2 separate regions of the Homo sapiens genome follow, and region 1 is linked to region 2. The links come from fine-mapping of genetic effects on gene expression. A gene starts in region 2. The other region holds a variant in brackets. All regions are shown on one strand. Distances are between the middles of the regions.

Region 1 (10,595 bases), 61 kb before region 2:
CTGTGGCCACAGATGGGTAAAGATGAGTCATAAAAGTGTGGCCAGATGCCAAGTCCTGGATCAGGGAAGGACGGCGGCTCCGTGACACCAGCCCTGAGGGGGCCAGCTGCCTTGGGAACCTATCGGGGGCCTTGGGGCAGCCAGTGGCTTCCAGAGGCTGGGGAGGGTTTCTCCACCAGTCCTGTCTCCATTAGAGGTGGCGGCAGGCCTGGGGCAAAGGTGCCATAGACTGGAGCTATTTCTACAGCTGCAAGGAAGACGTTCCCCTTCCTTAGCATGACTGGCCAGAAGCCTCATCTCTGCGCACGTCTCCACTGCTCACCCTTTTGGCTCTGGATACGATTGGGATTACACAGGGGAACACGCTCCTTTCAGTGTCTGGGGGAAGAGTCTCCCCATGGAGTCCAGCAAGTAGGACTGGGCCCTTCCTCACAGCAGGGCTGCTCCCTTGGGGCAGAGAGCACAGGCCCAGCCCGGACTCAGGGCTATATAAGGTGGCCAGGCTGGCCGGGACTGTGGGAAACGTTCTGGGCAGCCAGAACCTCCTGGGACAGGAAGGCATCCCCAGCAGGCATCAGCCCCGAGCCAGGCACCACAAGCCCAGGCTCTGCCAGTCCAGCTCCGAAAAGAGCCACTGTCAGCCTGTCCATGGTCATGGTCTTGCCATCACAACGGGACAGGCCTCTATGGGTCTTTTGAACCTGGCACTTCCAGGCACACAGGGGACAGAGGACTGGAGAGAGAAGGGTCATGCAGGCTGAGAATCTGGTGTTCCATGCCCCAGACAGCATGGTTGGAGCAGAATGTGGGAGTCTTACCCCTGCTGTTTGGAAGAGACGGTAGCTCAGGAAACTGACTGCCAGAGAGGAATCTCAATCTGGCTCTGACTTGGAGGGGACAAAAGCCGGGAGGAGGCAGTGTGAACAAAAGTGTAGGGAGGGAGAGGGGTTTTGAGGTCCCTAGTGCAGTGCAGGGAGAGGGGTTTTGAGGTCCCTAGTGCAGTGCAGGGAGAGGGGTTTTGAGGTCCCTAGTGCAGTGCAGGGAGAGGGGTTTTTGAGGTCCCTAGGTGCTGCAGAGCCTGCAGGTCCTCAGAGGCTTCTCAGCAGCTTCTGTGGAAGGCAGGAGGAGAGGTGGTCCCTGAGACCCCACCCACTTCACTCTGAGCAGTGTCATCATGGCCTGCTTTATGGAATAGACTCCAGCTCAACTCCCCTGTAGTATAAAAGGGGAAACTGAGGCTCAGAAAAGTCTGAAGTCACAGGTCAGCACTGAGTCTCCATGTCCAAGGCAGCATGTGGCAGTGCCCATAATAGCACCTGTGCTATCCCCTGGGATCCTCTTAAACGGACATGTTCCATGTTCCCACCCTGTCCTCCCTCTCAATAGTGGCCATAGCCAGGGACCAACCAACACCTTCTGATTGCTGGGGCCACGTGGGCATCCTCTTTATTGGTGCTTCCAAGGTGCTGGTGCAGAGCCCTTGGCTGAAGGGCCTGGACTGTGGGGGAGGGTGGCAGCCCCAGAGACAGCAGGGGAGAGGAAGCGTTCTGGCATAAAAAAGAGTTCCTGGGAAAGGCTCCTGTTTCCGAGCATTCGGGCAGCAAGGGGAGTGGCGCACACTTCTCAGCCGAAGACACTCTTGGTGGGTCCGGCTTTGGGCTTCTCAAAGACAGTCTCGGTACCTGTGCGGGTGCGGCTGAACACCGACGGGGCGGCCGAGCCAGCTTGCTCTGTGGGAGGAGGTAAAGTCAGGGGCCAGCCTAGCTTCCTGGGAGGGAAGATCCCTTACGATGGGAGCACCTTTCTTGAACCCAGGAATACTGGATTCTCAGAAAAGGATCCTTGACCACCTCCCCCCACCACTGACACACACCTGCACCCCCATCCCCAGCCCCAGATGGCATGAGGACACTCACCACACTCTCGCATGACCTGGTAGGTCTTGGACTTGATTTCCTGGTTCTTGGTCAGGTTTCCTCGGGCCCCCTTCAGGTCCTCGTCCTTCACAGGGGGGCGCTTCTTCTTGATAGGGGCTTCCTGAGCACCAGCCTTGGAGATCCAAGAGCCTCATCTTACTACCTGAAGCCTCGGTAGAAAGGCACACCTACCTCTGTGCCTTGGCCAAGACCCCTCTTCTCTGCTCATTAAACCCAAGCCTATTCAAGGCTCTACTCCTCTTCCAGAGAAAGCCTTCCCAACTATACTCCACCTGCTGCAGGTCTCCCAGCTGTCTTGGTCTGACTTGCCCATGTGCCTTTCCCCTATAGCCTGGGAGCTCTTGGGAGCAGTGGCTGCTGCAGCCTCACACTGGCGTGTCTGGCTACCTGGTCAAGCTCAGGACTGGGCACAGTGGGGAACAGCGAAGGGGACTAGCTCTGAGGTTGGGCAATACTAGGGAATTTGGTTAGTTCCAAAACCTGTTCACTGGGTGGCAAGCGGTTCCTCAAGGATTGCCCCCTTCCAGAAAAGCGCCACTATTTACTTTGTGTCTTTGGGGCTGGAAATGGGGTAGAAGGGCCAGATGCCCACAGAATTACAGTCCAAAATGGCCACCCACCCACAGAGCAGGCAGCAAGGACAGTCCTCTCTCTTGGCAGGCTGGTCTGTCCCTCCAGGGTGGGGGACACCCAGGCTCGGTGTTTACCCTACCCCTCAACCCCAGGCGCCTGTGAGTCTGAGACCTGCCTGTGCTTGGGTGCAGGTGCAGGTATTTCCTCGCTCAGCCTGGGCCAGGCTCCTCAGAGCAACACACTATACCCCTGTACAGCGATGCATCCAGCTGTGTCCCTCCAGCCTCATGTGCACACACATACAGCTTCATGCATATACCATACACAGAGACAGACAGACCTATGTGTGTGGCCACACACAGAGTGCATGGCTGCCGGGCCCATAGCTACAAATGCACAAAGCTCTACACACTGAGCTATATCGGCAGCACACACACAGATGCGCACACACACACACACACACACAGGCACATGCAAAGATCTATCTAGGCCCCCCCCACCCCCAACATTTCTCTCCACTCCTCCTAACAAACCGTGGAATACCACCAAAGCCACATAGAAGAGGGGTTCTTCAGGGGGTCCTCCCTGAGCCCCCATCTCCCAAGGGCTGCAGAGCCTCCAGTTCATGCTTGGGGCTCAGATCAAGACACAGCTGCCAGAGCCGAAAGTGTCCAGGACTCCACCTCCACTCCCTCTGGCATCAACACAGCCCTTGCTGGGTCCTCCTACCTGGGACATGGTGGGTATTGTGTAAGCGCTGGGTCTCTGAAGGCGCCTCTCTGGCAGGCAGCAGCTGCTGGAAAAGATCTGAGTGGAGCCCAGCCTTCTGAAACTTATATAGCCTGCTTGCTTGTCCCGCAGAGTCACTGCCCCTCCTCTGACAGGCTCCCTGATGATTCAGGTCCGCAGGGTCGCTGGCTTCAGAGTTTATTCTCGGAGATGAGAGGGGCTCCCAGTACTGCTGCCTGGGGGCTGCAGCCCTGATGAAAGCAGATGGCTGCAGAGACCCTTTGCCCTCTGGGACAGCTGCTTGATTCGCCGGGGGGAGGTGCTGGCACTGACGGACATGCTTTGTGTTTACGGATTTGGGTCCTGGAATGTGTGACCATCTGAATTGTTCCTCTGCAAGGGTTCATCCCAGTGTGTGGGGTGGGTGTGGGGTGTCCCTGAGGGAATGGAGGGCCCTAGCTGGGTTGGACTGCTCCAAGCTTGTTTTTCTTCCTCTTCCATCCCTTCCCCTGGATTCCAGTGGACAGATTTTCCATCCCTGCATGGTGGCAGAGCAGGAGCTTCCCGTGTCTGCTGCGTCTGATTATGGCAAGCTCACTGGGCCCTTGCAGCAAACTCAGAGAGGGGCTACCACAGGTTCACAGGTGGAGAAAGTGAGGTAAAGGGAGCCTGGGGAGTTGCTCATGTTTTTGCTGATGTCCTTGTCCTCTATCCTATTCCAACTGCAAGTTCAGAGAGGGGGGAGTAAGGGGTCTGGAAAGGACCAGGGAGGAAACCATGCTCGATGGTGACAGCACTGATGAGACAGAGGTGTGAAACAGGCTCAGGCTCAGGCCTGAGCCTACTCACCTCCGAGTAGGTGAGGCCACCGCAG[G/C]GGGGCTGGCCTGCAGGACAGTTTCAGTTGCTCAAAGAGGGTGGGGGAGAGTGAAGCCCACTCCAGATACTGAGCTGCAGAGACAAGAACAGGCCCAAGGGCTCCCCGGAAGGTCACTTAGCTCTCCTTTGCTAGAAGCTCCTAACACACCCCTCCTTGCAAGGGGAAGATCCCCCAGGGCACAGGCCAGGAGCCTACGCCTGGGGTGGGTATGGGGAATAGGTGTGCATAGGTCGCAGCCCTCCCAGTAACACACATATCTAAGTCCTTTTCAGTTTATGATGGAGATTATTTTTATCCTCGAAGGCTCCAGGCAGATGGAACTCAACCAGGCACTGACATTTGGTTATCCCAAATGCCACTCCATTGCTGTCATACTTTGAACCCCACCCCAATCCCCCTCCTGACACCCTGGCTCCAGGAGGCCAATGAGAGGACTGCCAGGCTTGATCTGAGACAAGTGCTGACATGAGGAATGCCCAGGATGTGGCACATGGGCCAAGAGGCAGCTGAGGGCAGGCCAGGCCTTGTGGGGGCCTTCCACTAGTTCCAGGGGTGCCCCTGCAGATGGCACCTGATGCTGCGGCTCTGCCCAGGGACCTCCTTCCAGCCCCGCAGCCTCAGGGACAAGGATGTGGGCTACTCACTGCTTATACTCTACCTCCCCAACACGATGTCCTCCTCAGAGACGGACTTGCTTTAATTCTCACTAGCGAAGAAGTGGAGATGGACATGGCAAGAGCATGTTTGGCTTTTCACTGGGCAGTTGCTGGCTCCCACTCCTGCCATGAGGCTTCGTAAGGTTCCTTCTCACTCTGGTCCCTGGGGAGAACCTTCTAATTCACAGGGGAATCTTTTTTGACCCTGCCAAGCTGTTTCAACTCCAGAGAACCCACAACCACAACCACAAATGTGATGGTTTCTTTTTAAAAAAAACTGTAATAAGATGCCAAACTTTATTGTAAACCATTTTACAATGTAAGTACATCATCTTCTCTTTCATTTCAAAAAAACGTTTCCATGAATCCTACCACCACCGATTAAGCACCCCCACTGGATGGCTGCTGAAGTGGGCCATGGTTTTCCTTGCATAGGTCTGACTTCTAACAAACTTCAGGAAAAGAAAAATCAAATTTAAAACAACCCAACCAACCAACCACCAACCAACCCAGGAGCTCAAGGTGCTTGTGGCAAGTCAGACCATAAGTCCCTTACCAAAAGCCAAGCCCCTCAGAGCTGCTAATGTTTCACGAAGTAAAACAGAGAGCTCTGCACTCTTAGCTGCAAGCGTGTGAAACTTCTAAAAGCCAGCCCCACATTCTACAAGGCAGCTGCTCTGGCCAGTGGGAAGCTCCTTGCACTGCCTATCTTAGCCTGGCTGCGAAAAGGCCAGTGAACTGCAAGGGCAGAGTGAGCTGCCAGCTGGGCGCTGCTCCCTCCAGGGTTCTGAGGCAGCCTTTGGACATAAACTTGGGGCTGCACCCTACAGGCTTACACTGTCTAAGGGAAGTCACAGCTTGGATTTGAGCCTTTTAATATTTTCCCTGAAGAAAGAGGCATGACAGGTGACATTAACCCATGACTCCCTGTTGCCAGGGAGGGCACAAGTTAAAGCTTGAGGAAGGAGGCCACCAGCACGGCTGAGGGGCCACAGACCCTCCTCTTGCATGTGTGCAAGCTGAGTGGACCAAGAAGCCACCACCACCTGGATCTCACTAACATCCCCCCTTGCCATTGTCAACAACCCTCTGACAGCAAAAGGAAGTAACAGTACCAACCACCTCTTCCATTTGGATATGACAGTTCTACCTCATTAGTTTATTTCCAATAGTTACAAGAAATTTGTTCATGACCTTGACTTGCAAGGTTCCACCACAGGTGGCTTGGCTGAGGTCCAGATTTGGACAAATCAGATTCATAGCACACAATATCCAGCCAACGTCCCACCATTTCTCAACACGGTGATGGATGCCATGTGGCCAGGTGAAGAGCTGCACCTCGTAAGGCACCTTGGAGCAGGTGGAGAGGAAACTCATCCCAGGGAGGGAGGGCAGCTCGGGAGGAAGTCCTGACCACAGCCCTCTGATCTGCTCTCATGGGATGGTGCACCACGGAAGAGCCCCCAGTGACTGCAGGAGGCACTCCTGGGGATACAGATTTGTGTGTGTACATGTGTGTGCACGTGCACGTGCACACACACACACAAACACACAAGAAAGGGAAGGCCAAACACGAGAGGTGTCCTATGGTCAGACACCCTATTAGACCCCCGTCCCCTGGTCAGCCAGCCAGCTACTAGCCACAGCTCAGAGACTAAAGCCCTTTCTGAAAATCAGGATACAGGGAAAAACCACCACTCTTCAGCTACCTCTTTGTTCCCCAAACCCTCTGCTCACTGGGAAGTGGGCAAAGCCTTCAGATGAGACCATCTGAGATCTATATAACCCAGGGTTTGTTTCACAGCTTTCATAGATTATGGCTCTCCTATCCCCTGCCCTGTCTGGAAACATTAGGAGCTCAAGACTGAACATGAAGCTCCAATTGTGAGCTCCAGGAAGGTGGAAGAAACAGCTGCAGGCACAGGTTGTTCAAACCAAAATGAAACAGGAGGGGAGGAATTAGAACTGAGTCAGTGATGCCATGAGGGAATGACCGTCCTGTCAGGAACATGAGTCTTGGTCTTCCTAAATTCGACTGAGAATGGCCTGGTTCTAGCCACTCTTCCCCACTAGAGAGCTGCTGGGGAAATACTGGCTACCATAGCTGTGGATGGGAGGGAGCACAAAGTCAATCCGAGCAGGAATGACACCAGCAAAGTTGCCTCCTACTGTAGTTACAGTCCCTGCTCCTCTCAGCACCCTGGCTCTGCACTCCTGGTGGAAGATGGGCTGAGAAGGCCTGCCTGATGCTCGCCTTCAAGTCCAGGACAGGTAGGGCTCTGAGAGGCAGAGGGCAGTCCCAGGGTACCTGGTTTAACAGCTGGGTTCATGCGCCCAATTCGGACCCAATGTGCTTAAGTGAAACACGTGCTCATGCAGGTCTAAAAGGAAGGTCCTAAGTGGAGTGGCCTCCTCTGCACTTGTCTCACTTGAAGTCCAGGATGTCTCCCTTCTAGCTCATCACACCTTAGCAGTGTGGCTTCCTGTTCCTAACCATCCGTGGCTGCCTCTGAGCTTGACAAACCACCAAGCAGTGCCCCTACCTTGCTGTTTCCACAGCAGGGAAACGGCTGGGGTCAGCCCATTCCACAGTCACTCAGCAAACTCCCAAAACCACAGGGGCCTGTGGCCATGCTGAGGAGTAGTGACCATTCCCCAGGGAGGGGACACGGCCTAGAAGCACCTTGCCCTGCCTGTGGTTTAGAGAGTGAGCTCTCTCACCCCTGCCTCCCTTAGCCACCTCAGCTTTGGAGGGTGAGAAAAACAGGATCACTTTGTGAGGCACATGTTCTCCAGAATGCTGTGCAAAACAAATAGGTGACACTAGGATGACAGGTACCAGGGCAGCAGGAGAGGAGGCTCCTGGCGCTGAGTCCAGAGGCTGGCTCTGAAGGCTGCAGCAGTGGGGGCTGGGAGGCCAAGACCACTTTAAACCGTGATTGGAGGCTCTGCAGACAGGCAGACTGCACAGGAGTCTGGTAGTCTTGGGTCCTCTGGAAACAAAGACCTCTTAGCTAAGCTCCTTTCTTGGTCAAATTTAACTAAGATCTCTAATCTGCCAGCAGGAATGCTAGAGCTCATGGGCCCTGGGCAGAGCCTTTCCTGTTCCACACTCTGCAGCTCCTGGATCTGCATCCAGACCAGCTGCTCCAAGCTTGGGTCTGACCTTCACAGAACCATTGGGTTTGCTGATTCTAGAGAAGGGCCATCCTCCTTCCCTCCCCATCATTTGTCTCATCTTATCATAGGGCATCATCTAATAATATTCCAAATAAAAAACTCCCGATTTTTCCTCCTGCCAGCCCACACCCCATGAAAGGCAAATAAACCCATTTCTTTGGGGACTAAAAAGAGTTTTTAAATACAATAGTATGAAAATATAACTTAAAAATATAAAAGTCAAACAGCATACGGAAGACTTAAAAATCTCTGTTTTGCCCATTAGTCCCGTAAGTACTTTGTAGGAAATAAACACATACCCCCAACCTGGTAACACTGTCACAACTCATAAAACCAGCTTCAGAAATCAATAGTTACAAAAGCCATTTTGAGTAAGAAAGCATTCCGGTTCCAACTTGGTCAACGAGTCACTTTTAGCCCGAGGGTGTTATGTGTTCGCACTGCCCACAGCCACGGTGAGGAGACCCACCCACGGTCTGTGTGCCTGTGCTTCCTTCCACCTTGCCACTCGGTGGTCGGACACGGGGCAGGGCCTCAGGTCCCTCACAACACTGTCTGGGACGACAACAAACAAACACAGCTCCTTCCTTGCATATTTGGTCAGTGTTTGTAGTGCAACTGAATGGGGACCTCCAGCCGCCAGTGGCCCCCTCGGGCGCTGGCTCCTCTTCCCTCTTTTTAAGTCACAGTAGTCTGGGGGCAGGCGAGAGCGGGCAGAGACAGCAAGAGGAGCAGAGGTAGAAAGGAAGGGCAGAGAGAGGGTAAGGAACGATGCTGCGGGATGACCTCTGCACACCAGCGGCTGGCGGGGCCCTCCCGTCACCCCCAGCATGGGAATGTGTCATACGGGTAGCCCAAAGCGGTGCTTCTTTTTCTTCACAGGCTTGAGGGGGGTCAGTCTGCGGAGGTCCTCCTCCACGTCGGACTCCTCCATCTCATCATCCGCTGAGATCAGGATCTGAGGCAGTAGAGAGGCAGGGCCTGAGTCACCCCCAGCAGGGCCTTCTTCATTTGCCCTCCCTGGACCCTGGGCCCTTCAAGTCTCATGTTTTTTTTTTTTTTTTTTGGACAGAGTCTCACCCTGTCACCCAGGCTAGAGTGCAATGGCACGATCTCGCCTCACTGCAACCTCTGCCTCCTGGGTTCGAGTGATTCTCCTGCCTCAGTCTCCTGAGTAGCTGATTACAGGTGCGTGGCACCATGCCTGGTTCGTTGTTTTTTTTTGCTACTTTTAGTAGACATGAGGTTTCACCATGTTGGCCAGGCTTGTCTCAAACTGCTGACCTCAAGTAATCCACCTGCTTCGGACTCCCAAAGTGCTGGGATTACAGGCGTGAGCCACCATGCCTTGCCAAGTCTTAATGTTTCTTTACAAGAGAGTGAGGGGAAGCTCCCTGTACTCAATGAGACGTGCTAGCCTCCACAGGCCATGTTCACTCCAAGGACACTCATGGGCTACTGAAGCCAGCACTGAGTCGACAGACCCCCTTCCTCTGCTAATGCTCCCCACTTCTCAGTCCACCTCCAGGGGAACCGACCTCCATCAGGACAAACTCAGCAGGGATCTGCAGCCTAAGGTCACCCTGGCTAAAAAAAGCTCAACCATGACACATGCAGTTGTTGAAGCTGCCTTAAATACTGCAGAGGCAGACTGAAAAGCCCCTTTCAAAAGGAAGAGAAAGCATCTGTGGGCAGGGGGAGTTCAGCGTGGCTGCTCTGAGCCAACTCTGTAACTGCTGAAGACAAACAGCGGCACTTTGCTGTTCTAAGGCCCTGGAATGACTCAGCCATGCAGCTGGGGCAAACACACTCATCCGCTGCCCGCCTGCCTGGCTCCTTAGACCTCTGAATACCAGGGAAAGGTTGGAACCACCTAGGTTGGGATCAGGAGGTCCAAAGCCCACCTATGCAGGGAAACACGAACTCCTATTCTAGGGCAGGGCAGGCAGTCTCACCTCCTCTTCCCTGCACTGTTCCCTTGCGGGGCTTCCTGCCTCTAGTCTCGGTCCCGACCACCACACTCCCACTGCTCCTCACCGCCTGTACGAGCACATCCCAATGCCTCAGCCTGGATCACAGGGCATTGCCGATCTAGCTCAGCCTGTGCCTCACTTCTTGTCCTTCTGTCCTATGCTCCAGAATACAAGCCACAGTGCATTTCACACTATGGCCCAGACACCAAACCATGTGACTGTGAATGCTCATGAGCTGCTGCTTCTGCCCATAACACTGTTTGCCACTCACCTAATGTTCACCAAGCTCTCATATGACAGGTGCTGGCCAGATTCTAGAGACAAGCACCTAGAGAAGACACGGCTTCCCCTCTGTCCTACTATCTATTCGTCTTCTGAAACTCCCTCCAGGCTGTCCCAGGGCCCTCGTTGGGTTCTGCCTATGCCTCAATCTTAGAACATATTACGGTGTCATGACGAAATACTTATGTGTCCACCTGCACCTCACCCACGTGTCTGACAGCCTCTCCGGGGAAGACGTTTGTCTCAGCTTTTCTGCAGCTCCCACCTGCACACTTCCTAGGCCTCCCATGCCTCCCACGAGCTGGCCCTGCACGCAGATGTGGGGTGAGTGCTGCGGGGCCGCCAGAACACATATCCTGGCCTCAGGGCTGCTATTCATGGCCACCGT
Region 2 (10,595 bases):
GTGTTCTTGCCATAAAACTGGGTATCTGAATCTAATAACTGCTCCAGACCAAACTCAGGAAAACAGGGGCCAGTGAAACAATTCAAACACCACAAGGAAACACCCAGACAACTCCAGAATGTGGGGCACTCCACACAACAAGCAGCCAGAACTCTTCAAAAAGCCAGAAACATTGAAAAAAAAAAAAAAGTGTGCATGTATGTGTAGGAGGAGGTTCTTCTAGAAACGAAAGTGACTGAAAACGTAACCAGACACAACGTGTGGACCTTGATTGGATCTTAGCTTTTAAAAACTCCAGCTATAAAAGACTTGTGACATTTGGGGAAATGTGACTATGGACTGGATATGAGATGATATCATGGAGTTATTATTAATTCTCTTAAGTATGATGATGAAATTGTGGTTATGTGGGAGATTGTCCTTATTTTGGGGAGACTTAGCTGAAGTATTTAGCAGTAAAGTGTGATGCTGGTCACAATTTACCTTCAAATGGCTCAGCCAAAAAAAAAAAAGCATAAAGAGGTAAAGCAAATGTGACAAAATGTGAACAACTGCTAAATCTAGGTAGAGGGCAGACAGATGTTCAGTGTATTATTTTTCATGTTTTCTACGTTTGACATTTTTAGAGATAAAAACCAGGATGGGGTGGGGAGAGGTGATCGTAGGGAAGGTTGTGCCAACACAAGCCTGTTCACACAGAGCACACAGGGAGGCCGGTTTACCACGGAGAAAACCCCAGAAACTCTCATTTAAGATATCAAAGCTGAGTGGACTGGTTTGTGATTTTTACTTTGGATTGCAGGAAAAAAGTTATCACTTCTCAATGTTAGCAGTGTTTTTGTAAAACATGGACACATTTCTCCCAGCTGGCTAGGCCCCATGTCTATAACAAAAATAGGCAGGCAGATTTATCCAAGCTCTCAAAATGCTTGTTTTATTAAAAACCAATTCTGTCTACACTTCAGCCCAGAACCCTGACTGTGCACGGTGAGGGAGGCTTGAGTTTGCTTTGCATTCACATGTCCTGAGAGCAAACACCCCCAAATGCCAACACACACACTGGCCAACACGACCTTTGGCTGACAGCTGGTTGGCTACCCTGCACTGGAACAGTTTGCTGAGCTCTAGGACTGCTTAGCTCTGTTCTGCTGAGACCCTAGCTGAGCAACTTTGTCAAGTCACAGACTATAGACAAAACCACCAAAACGAGGAATTGCTTAAAACCACCAAAACGAGGAATTGCTTGGCAAAGCCCCCTCGTTTAAAGCGTTTCTTTCTATGCAGATACCTAGCAGACACTTCAGAAAACTCTAAGTGGAAAGTATCTTCATAAGCTTGTCTCTGAGTATGTTCATCTTTCCTTGCGTACACAGGGTACCTTAGCTGGAGCCTCTAGGAAGCCCGCCAACTCAACAAGGCAGTGCTGACACTGGGACATGTGTGTGGGTGGTGCCTGTAACAGTCTGCATGTTTATGCAGCTTGAATAATGGGCTACCATGTATGACCTGGCATATACATTCTCAACTGCCTGGACCAAGAGGGTCTATAAACCCTACATAGTAAGGCAAGAAGTCTATCAAAGCACCAGAATGAGAAATTCTTGCAGAACCAGAATCCTCCCCAGAGACATTAATATATATAAGTAATCTTCCTTCAGGACAAACCTCTCCAGATTAAAAACAAAGAAACAAACAAACAAAAACAAGGCAACGTGTAAGTGGAGAAAAAAGTGATTTTTCTGGATAGAAAAAGGAACATAAAGACAGTGGTCTGAGGGGTCACTGAAATCAGGGAGGTGAAGTAAGGAAAACTACCTCACAGCTTGTCTGCAGAGAAATGGGTTCATTCTACAGTCAGAGCTGGTCCAACAGGAAACAATAGTGTTGGCCATCAGGACTGGGGAAGCGTTCCAGAAGACAGGCAGTGAGCCCATTGCCTCGAGGGCCACGGGTACTCAGAAGGGAAAAGACTGTGATCTCAAAAACAGCCCCTCAAAGGACAACGGCTGTTTAAACTGCTCAGAACAGACTGGTTGGTATTTAAAATGTTTGAAGATAACAGAACTGAGGAAGGATGGAGTGGCCTCACCTTAACACACACTAAGACTTCCCTCCCTCAGGGCTGCGAGGGGGACCCTCGTCAGGGGAGCCTGGCCTTCAACAGATGCCCCTCCTGGCAGCTCCGCCAGACTGAGAAGGACGGAGGACTAATAGCCCAGGACAAAGCCAAATGGCTCGCAGATGTACTTCCTTAAGGCTACCTTGATCTCGTTCCTCTTCCACCTTAGAGATTTCTTCCTCTTCCCAGTAGTTCAAGAAGGAAAAGCCTCGCAGTTCTATTTCAACAGGACCAAGAAATCTGAGAGATAAGAAGGGCCCCACCCTGACTGCATCCCAGTCAGTGGGCTTCTTCTTGTCCAGCTCCCAGAGTACCATTGCCCTGGCCTGCTCTGTCTGCTTCTAGGTAGGGGGAGGAGGCTCTTGCTCTCACCTCCATTTCTGTGTCAGGGCAGACATAGCTCTAGCCTTTCCAGCTCTTCTCCCCATCACTCCTACCCACATCACCCCAGGACCCACCAGCCATTTCCACAAGCTCCGTCCACGTCAAGCCTCACAGTGAACAAGAGACTGCTTTCTAGTTCAATCTCTGCACACAGAAAGTACCAACCACAGTGGGATTTGCACATGTGCTCACGCTGAAGATTAAGTAAAGAAGTGAATATGTCCCTGAAGACTCCACTCAGAACACATTCAACCCGATACACTTCTCAGCTGTGAGCAACTCTGCCCTGTCATCATCACATTTCCTTCTCTGAATCACAAGTGTCAAACCCTAGGGGACAAGCCGGGCCATCAGCATCAATCAAACCTATGGAAACAGCCAGAGCTAGGCTAAGAAACCTCAGGTTAGGGAGCAAAAGAAAAATTTAACCTACACTTCCTTCAGAGAGAAAGGAAGGCTGTCTGGAGGACAGAGAAGTAGGAGGGGTATGAAGATCCACTCACCATGTCTTGAAAACACACACGTACAGTACATGCGCCCAAGTCAGCAGCGGATTTTGGCTAAGTTGTCACAAATTATTACTGTGGGAACAAGTGGGTATTTGTTTAGCAGAGAAAAAGCAAGGCAAGTTGGGACTAAAAAGGAAAGAAAAAGTGGCAAACATAGACAGTTGGGCACTTATAAGACTTATCAAGGACAGGCCACCAGAAGAACGCGGTATCCATGATCAGAGCCTCTTCAGGGTTACTTAAAGCCTGAGAGAATTCACTCAAAGAAACCCCAAGTTATAAACAAGCAAGGTGGCCACTCCAGCAACTGGACCCCACAAGACAAAGGCACACAGCTGCAAGATCCCTCCTGAGTACCCCAAAGCATACTTTCTGCAGGAACTCTCCACTCTGTCCACACAAGCACAGTGGGGAAGTTTTGAGAACAAGTCATTTTTGGAATTAATGACTCTGCACAGATAGTTATAACCTTTCCTTCCCCCTAAAACGCAGTCACAAGGGCACTCCTAGGCTTACATGTCGAGCAAAACTTCTTGTTACTTTAATAAGGGAAGGATGCACACGATGAAAAACAGAAGCCCCCCCCCACCCCCCATCAGCACACATGAGAACAGGGTGGGGGCTTCCTTCTCTATTCAGCCACTAAGGTGCCCAAGTTTAATGGAAAAGGAAACTTAAAATATAAAGAATAAAAGTGGAAAGGGAACAGCCAGGGGAAGCTATAGATGCGGCTTATTAGGAAAGCTTGGGACAGAGATGGAACAGGTGGGCCTGTTCCGGAAGAAACGAGAGGAAGGGGATCTGGGGAAGAAGGCAGACTGGGTGGGTCCTACCCTGACAAAAGGGAAACTAAAGCTGAGGAAGAAGGGCCACGGAGAGGGAGGCGGGTACTGGGAAACGGAAGGCATGGCCCTAACACTCCAGGTGTTGAGAGGGATGCAAAGTAGCAGGATTTAAATGTGAACGGAGAAGGCAGATCCTTGAAGAGTGAAGGGGCAGAAAAGAGCTCAGCATCGCACTGGGGATTGAGGGATGTGGGTTCTAAGCACGAAGAGCCCCTGAGAAGGGGCGGACAAGGGGATGTCACCCTTGGGGGTCATGATTCCAGGCTGGGAAGTGGGGTAACAATTCGAGATGGTAAGGTGGGAGGTAGGCGAGTTTTAGACTGGCGTCTCAAAAGACAGACGTTTAAGGTGGAAAGGGGAAGGGTCACTCCTGTCTGGAGGCCACAGCGAGTAGGTGAGGGGCTCGGGCTACCCCTAGTGCAGGAATACCCAGCCTGGGTTTGCGGGGGAGGAGCAATTCGGGTCCCAAGGCCTGAACTCTCCGCGCAGGAGGGGCCCCCAGGGGGGCCGGGCCGCGGCTGCCGCGCAGGGCCTCCGGAGGGTCGGGGGGTCCCAGACTCACGCATTAACGTGCTGAAGGCCACGACGCCGAGCAGCCCCTGCAGGAAGATGCCGAAGCTGTGCATGAGCGCGCCGCTCTCGCAGCGGCCCGCCCCGGACGCGACTGTGGAGGGCGGCCCGCCTGGCAGTCCCCGGCTCGCGTTCCCGGCGGGGCCCTGCATGACAGGCCTCGCGGGAGGGGCGCGAGGGCCCAGGGCCCGCCCGGCCTCGCTGCCTGCCGGCGCAGCGCCGCCAAACCCGCAGCCGGGATCCCAAGCCTGAGCCGGTACCTCCGCCCGGCCGCCGACTCCGCGCCGCGCGTAACCCGACGTCTGAGATCGCAGTGCCTGATTGGCGCAGCCAAGGTTGGGGCGGGCCTCGGCCGCGGCAGCTCTCCCCACCCGCCCCCGAGGGGCGGGGCTCCGGCCGGGCCACGGGGCGGGGTCGCGGGTCCCGCTCCCCTCTCCAACCCCGCCACGCCCGCAGGTAGACAGGCCAGGTGAGCCGGCCACCGCAGACCGGAATGAGAGCCTGGGAATCACGAGCTCCAGGTCCGGAGGTAGGAGCTGGGACGGCCTGTGGTCAAATTATTTTTCCCTCTAAGGAAAATCCCTATATCCTGGAGAAATTATCATCATTCCTGAATTCCACCCTCAGAGATCGTGATTCAGTAGTTCTGGGGTGGGTCCCAATAGTTTGCAGCCTGGATTATTCTGAAGCAAGTGAATAAGGAAAACAATCTGAGACTGAGTACAGGAGTCTTCCCTCCAACCCAGACATTTGAGTCTTTTTCCTACTTCCCTAGCTAAAGGCTTATCAAGGCCCCAAGTCTATTTTCTTTTTTCATAGACATAATTTAAATGGTCACCTGAATCCAATCACTTTCATTTGGAAATATACCAGGTTTCACACTGAAAACCTGACGTGCACATGTCCCACCTTATTCACTTGGGGAGCACAACTACCTTTAGAGTGTAAAAGACAAATGGTTGGTATTTTCCAGGCTCCAACATCCCCCTGCACACACACACTCCCATCTAACCCTTTCCAACTTCTCAGAACCTGTGCTCTGCCTTTAACAAGACCCTGAGTCCCCATTCTCTCACCCATTCTCCCAGCCCAATCTGGGCTCTCTCTGGATACCTTCTTGTTGGTGCTCTAGAGCCGCTGACCTTCCTGCTGCAGAATGTCAGTGAACACATGGTGTAAGTCCAGTTGACACTCACCCATTCTCCCAGCCCAATCTGGGCTCTCTCTGGATACCTTCTTGTTGGTGCTCTAGAGCCGCTGACCTTCCTGCTGCAGAATGTCAGTGAACACATGGTGTAAGTCCAGTTGACACTCACCCATTCTCCCAGCCCAATCTGGGCTCTCTCTGGATACCTTCTTGTTGGTGCTCTAGAGCCGCTGACCTTCCTGCTGCAGAATGTCAGTGAACATATGGTGTAAGTCCAGTTGATACTGAGCTACGTGTTTTCAACGGTAAATATCATCTCTAGGAAAAAGTTTCCTATTAAATAGCCCCCCAAATTCCAATTACCTAAGAGGGTTATATGCTAGCTAAAAGCTTTCTTGGTGAACAGGAATATTAACCTGATTAGAGAATAAAAATGCAATTCTCCAGCCTTCTCTTACATTTTCACACCTCTGTGCCTTTATGTAGCATTCTAGCTGCATGGATGCCATTCCCTTTTCCCTGCTCCATGAACTGCTCCTCATGTGTCAAAGCCTTTCTGACCTCCCTCTCCCTCTTGCTCCCACATTACCTAGTGTGTACTGTTCCACCAAAACTTTTCAGACTGCTAAATTTGACAGCTGTACACATGTCTCTCTCCCACAGCTAAGTGTGAGCCTCCTGAGGGCAGGAATTATTTTTATTTACCCTTCAATTCAAATTCAGTATGGTGCCTGGTACAGAGAACATGCGACAAAATGCTTAATTTAAATGGAATTTTAATTTATAAAATTTTAAACTCTCCACAAGTACTGGCCGTGGGCAAATACAGAAAATCAGATTAAAAAAATAAATGGATAAGGGAAAATTAAAATTGCATGACTGTCTTTTAGTCTAAGAGGGATCTTATGAGGATGCTCAACAGTTAACAGTACATGTTTAGAGAGAACCAAACAAGAGGCTACGTCTTAAAGCAGAATAGATTGTGGTTGGGCATAAGGAGACTATTGATTGCTTGAAGACACAGACAGCTCAAGGAAAATTGGACATAGAGCTGAAAAGTGATGTTTTTGACAAAGAATTGTTCTGCACATCCAGCTGTGGAGGAATCCTTAAGGCTCACAGAGGAACAAACAAGAAGCAGTCTTCAGAGATCAGGGGCGGAATCCCCAATGTCAGGAGCAAGGTTGCTGTGGGGAAATTCTACTCTTCCTATCTTTCCTGAACTGGAATTAAAAAGCACCTAAATCCAGAAGGTAAAGGATGAGACAGCAAGAGAGGGGGAAGAATTCCGGAGTTTTATTAAAGTAGGAAGGAACTTCTCATCTATTTGGAAATGATTCTCTGAGGTCCCGCTGGAAAGAGTTTTAAAAAATTTACTCTGGCCAAAATGCCTTCCTTGTTGTCAAATCAGCACAAAGTTAAGGTTAAACATAGCTTAAGACCTGTTCTCTTTAGTTTTCTCACAACCACTTAAAACTGTCATAACGTACCACCAGTTTATATACAATCATATTTACAAAAAAAACACGCAAAATATTAATCCAAAATAGTTTTTTTTAATCCTTTGAAGTTATACCATCAAACTTGATGGTAGTTATTTTAATAGGTATTCTTGTGCATACTTCTTAAGTGTACTTTTATCTTTAATGCATAACTTTTGAAATTAAGAGGAAAAACAGCAAGCAGGAAGGATACAATGCAATAAGCATTTGATTTTGTTCTAAATGAGCAGCTTTAAAAAAAAAAGGTAAAATACATTAAACAAAGTGCATCAGTTCCAACAAGTTAGTATTAAAAAGAGGCCTAAGGACAGTGCTGGAACCAGCCAGGAGTCCCTCCCTGGCAGGCCTCTGATTGTCTTCAGAGAATATTCAATGAAAAAAAAAAAAAAAAAAAAAAGGAAGAAAGGAAGGGAGGGGAAAAGAAATGAGCACTTGAAATCTCAAGGGAAACATTCAAACTACCGTCTCCAGAGATTCTTGCAAAAGGAGCTAATGGACTGCCCAACTTTAACTCTGCCTAAGCTTTGTAACCTCCCTCAATCATCTGCTTTGTGACTTGATTTGCCCTAAAAGCCTACCCTCATCCTTTCAGCACTTTTGTCCACCTCCATTCTGCCAAGCTAGGTATGCAGTTAGATTGAATAAACCATGTAGAAACCCTCAGGCCTGAGTTTCCACACATCCTGAGAACAGGCACCCCCATCAGCAAATGGTGGCACCATTTCACTAGAAGGCACCATTTGCCTCCAGAAATAATGGGAGACCCTTGCCTCCCACAGATCAGGGTCCGTGCTTTTCTGCTGGTGTTGGAGACTTATCTGGCAAGGCTGTGGCTTGCTTCTCTCTTAAAACAGTCCTTTGTGATAGGCCATAGCACCAGGACAGACCCAATGGTGTATTAAGTCAAAAAAGACTCAAGAAGAGGGAGTTTTAGGCCTACTTCTCTATCTCCCCAACTCTCCACTCCTGGTTTTGCTGGTTCTTGTGAAAATCTCAGGCTTCTTAAACACCATACCCAAGAAAATGACTCTGCAGTGCATTTGCTGCCCACCACCTTCTACACCTCCCCATAAAGCTGCCCTCAGAAACAAGGCTACCTGTGTGGTCTGGGACAAGTACTGAAAAAACACCCCTGAAACCACCCTTGGAGTGGGCCTGGAACCAGATCCAGTTCGACTGAGCATTGAATTTAAAACTTATGCCCAAACTCTAAGTCATAGGTAGCTTGTTTGGATAAATTCAAGTTTCCAAAGTATGCACATTCTCACATAAGGGGTGGGAGTCATCAAAACTCACTAGTAAAACATCTAAAGTGAACAAAGTCAAGGAAGAATTATAATCGCAGGAAAGTAACATTTCTTTTTGGTTTTGCAGGAGGCTCTCTGTCCTACGATTTCTGAGTCAGCACCATGACAAACATATGGTTGCTTACAGTGGACCCAGGAGCAAGGAAATCCAAGCTTGCAAAGGGGGCATCTGGTCCCCACCAAGATTTGTACTTCATTTTTTGTAGTGATGCCTTCTACTCATTTAACTTCATAAGACCAACAGATTTCCTACTGATAACACAGAACACTTCTGAACTGGTGTGTGCACACACGGCACATCCTCAATATACAGGATCAGAGTTCAAATCCAGGGTGTGTTCCACTGTTGATCAATTAAACCAGTAAATGGTGTCTCAAATAGAACAATCTTTGGTGATATAGGTGCCAAGTAAATATAATTGCCTGTGATAGTTTTCCCAAATGTTCCCATCTAGATTGCCTGATATTCTATGTGTCCCTCAGAAACACTTTTTGGCTTGAGAGAGGGAAATGATTCTGAGTCCCACCCTACCTAAGGCCTCCTAAAGCTTTTAAATTGTATTCAGGTACCACATTCGTGACTGAATTGGTACTAGAGAGCAAGTAAAGTGTATCCAGGTCCTCTGGAAGCTAAGGTCCAATGTCTTCTCTCTCACAGTGAGAATATTTTACTTCCAGGAGAAAAGGCATATTAAGGCTAAGTTCTGAACTAGTTTTCTATGTTTGCTTCTACCATAAGTCAATAAATATTTATCAAGAAGCTCATCTTTTCCAGAGGTTAGTAAGTACCCTTCCCTGACCTCACATATCTATAACATAGATAAATGCTAGGAGCCACCTGCATTGCTGAACAAAGGCAGATAGCGTGCAAGCTTCCATAAATGCATTCCCTGCATTAGCCACTTCAACTCTGCTTCAAATGAGAAGGATGAAGATGGTGTACAAAGGAAAACAGCATAGTCCCCAGAAGCCCTCAAAATCTAGTCAAAATGTCACAGAAAAATCTGCATGTGCAGCAAAAAGGTTTCCCTAGCACACTAATTGAGCAGTAGTAGTCTAATATTGGTCAGCCAGCTTTTCAAGGTCCAGGAGGATGAAGTAGTCCATTAACCTGTTTTCTAAACTTGTCAATTCAGGGTAAAAAATGGGTCATGAAAAATTTTCTGACCTCAGGCAGGCTGTGGGCCCAGCTGCAGGTGAAATCCAGACAAATGCAGTCCCTTCACAATGTGACTGTTACACATTTAAGAAGTTGGTCTCTCTAAAAAACAAAGTTCTTGCACCTGTGTGCAACATACCAACATTTTACCCCAACATGGTGAGCTATTATCTGGCTTGAAATCTGTTTCAGCATCACAGTAACCAGAACATCATTGTTATCTAGCCCAGTCCCAGCAGCTTTGTGAGGTAAATTAAGTCCAAACTTTAAGTTAAAAAAGTGCCCTGTGCTAAATTCCCAATTATCCTTGCTTACATAATATACGGGAGTCGGCGCTGGGGGATATAATTCTTTATGCAATTGCCTAATAAACTATGCCTTAATAGGAGAATGCAAGAAATATTAAGGGAAACTCAACTTACTTGACCATTTAGAGTCAGCCTTTCTCTAGGAACGGGCTGAGCCTGAATAATCATGGTATAAACAAGCCTGTTGGGCTCTGACTCTACCTAGATCAGAGACTACGTAGGGCTGTATGTTTTGCCCTTCAGCGCCTTCATCCCCTCACCTGTGAAGGGAGATGATTCTTAATTCTGTGGTTTCTGGAGAAGTCAAAAGAGAGACAAAATAAAGCATTCATTGTTCTTGTGTTTGGTAAATTCCCTCTTATAGGAAATATATTTCACTTTCCTAAATAAGATAATAACACGAGGCCCTAAACATTAATTCCAGAAATTCTGTTCCATTATTCTTCCTCAAGGGGCCCTCTTTTCCTTAGTACCTTGACTGAACTCTCAGGAAATTTCATTAAGCAAGATTACCACCACTACCCACCAAAAGCTTAATGTTTAATGCTAATTATTCCCTAGCATTCCCTATATATCCTTGTCTTCCACAGACACAGATTTAAATTTTTAAAAACTGGATCTCTAAGTTTCAAACATACTAATTTTTACTTAAATGAAGCTTCTTCCCAGATAGATCTGGTAGGAACCTAAGTGAAGAGTTAATGATTTAATGTATGATTTAGTTGCAGGGCTTGAGTTAAGTTGG

Evidence for each region. PIP is the estimated chance that this variant, and not a neighbour inherited with it, causes the effect.
Region 1: its variant is fine-mapped to the expression of STIMATE-MUSTN1 in aorta (GTEx, PIP 0.91).

The regions. Positions count from the first base shown.
Region 1 is chr3:52,831,701-52,842,295 of GRCh38, forward strand. It overlaps STIMATE-MUSTN1 (STIMATE-MUSTN1 readthrough), which reads right to left. Exons shown (of 10, transcript NM_001198974.3): 8 at 8,800-8,910; 9 at 1,917-2,049; 10 at 1,421-1,730. The coding sequence ends at 1,624. It overlaps MUSTN1 (musculoskeletal, embryonic nuclear protein 1), which reads right to left and starts at 3,319. Exons shown (of 3, transcript NM_205853.4): 1 at 3,240-3,319; 2 at 1,917-2,049; 3 at 1,421-1,730. The coding sequence starts at 3,248. The coding sequence ends at 1,624. STIMATE (STIM activating enhancer) reads right to left here. Exons shown (of 8, transcript NM_198563.5): 8 at 5,033-8,910. The coding sequence ends at 8,794. RefSeq lists enhancers at 5,750-5,919, 8,103-8,604. The variant G/C (reference allele first, on the strand shown) is at 4,114.
Region 2 is chr3:52,892,872-52,903,466 of GRCh38, forward strand. It overlaps STIMATE-MUSTN1 (STIMATE-MUSTN1 readthrough), which reads right to left and starts at 4,677. Exons shown (of 10, transcript NM_001198974.3): 1 at 4,420-4,677. The coding sequence starts at 4,579. It overlaps STIMATE (STIM activating enhancer), which reads right to left and starts at 4,677. Exons shown (of 8, transcript NM_198563.5): 1 at 4,420-4,677. The coding sequence starts at 4,579. RefSeq lists a silencer at 4,230-4,939.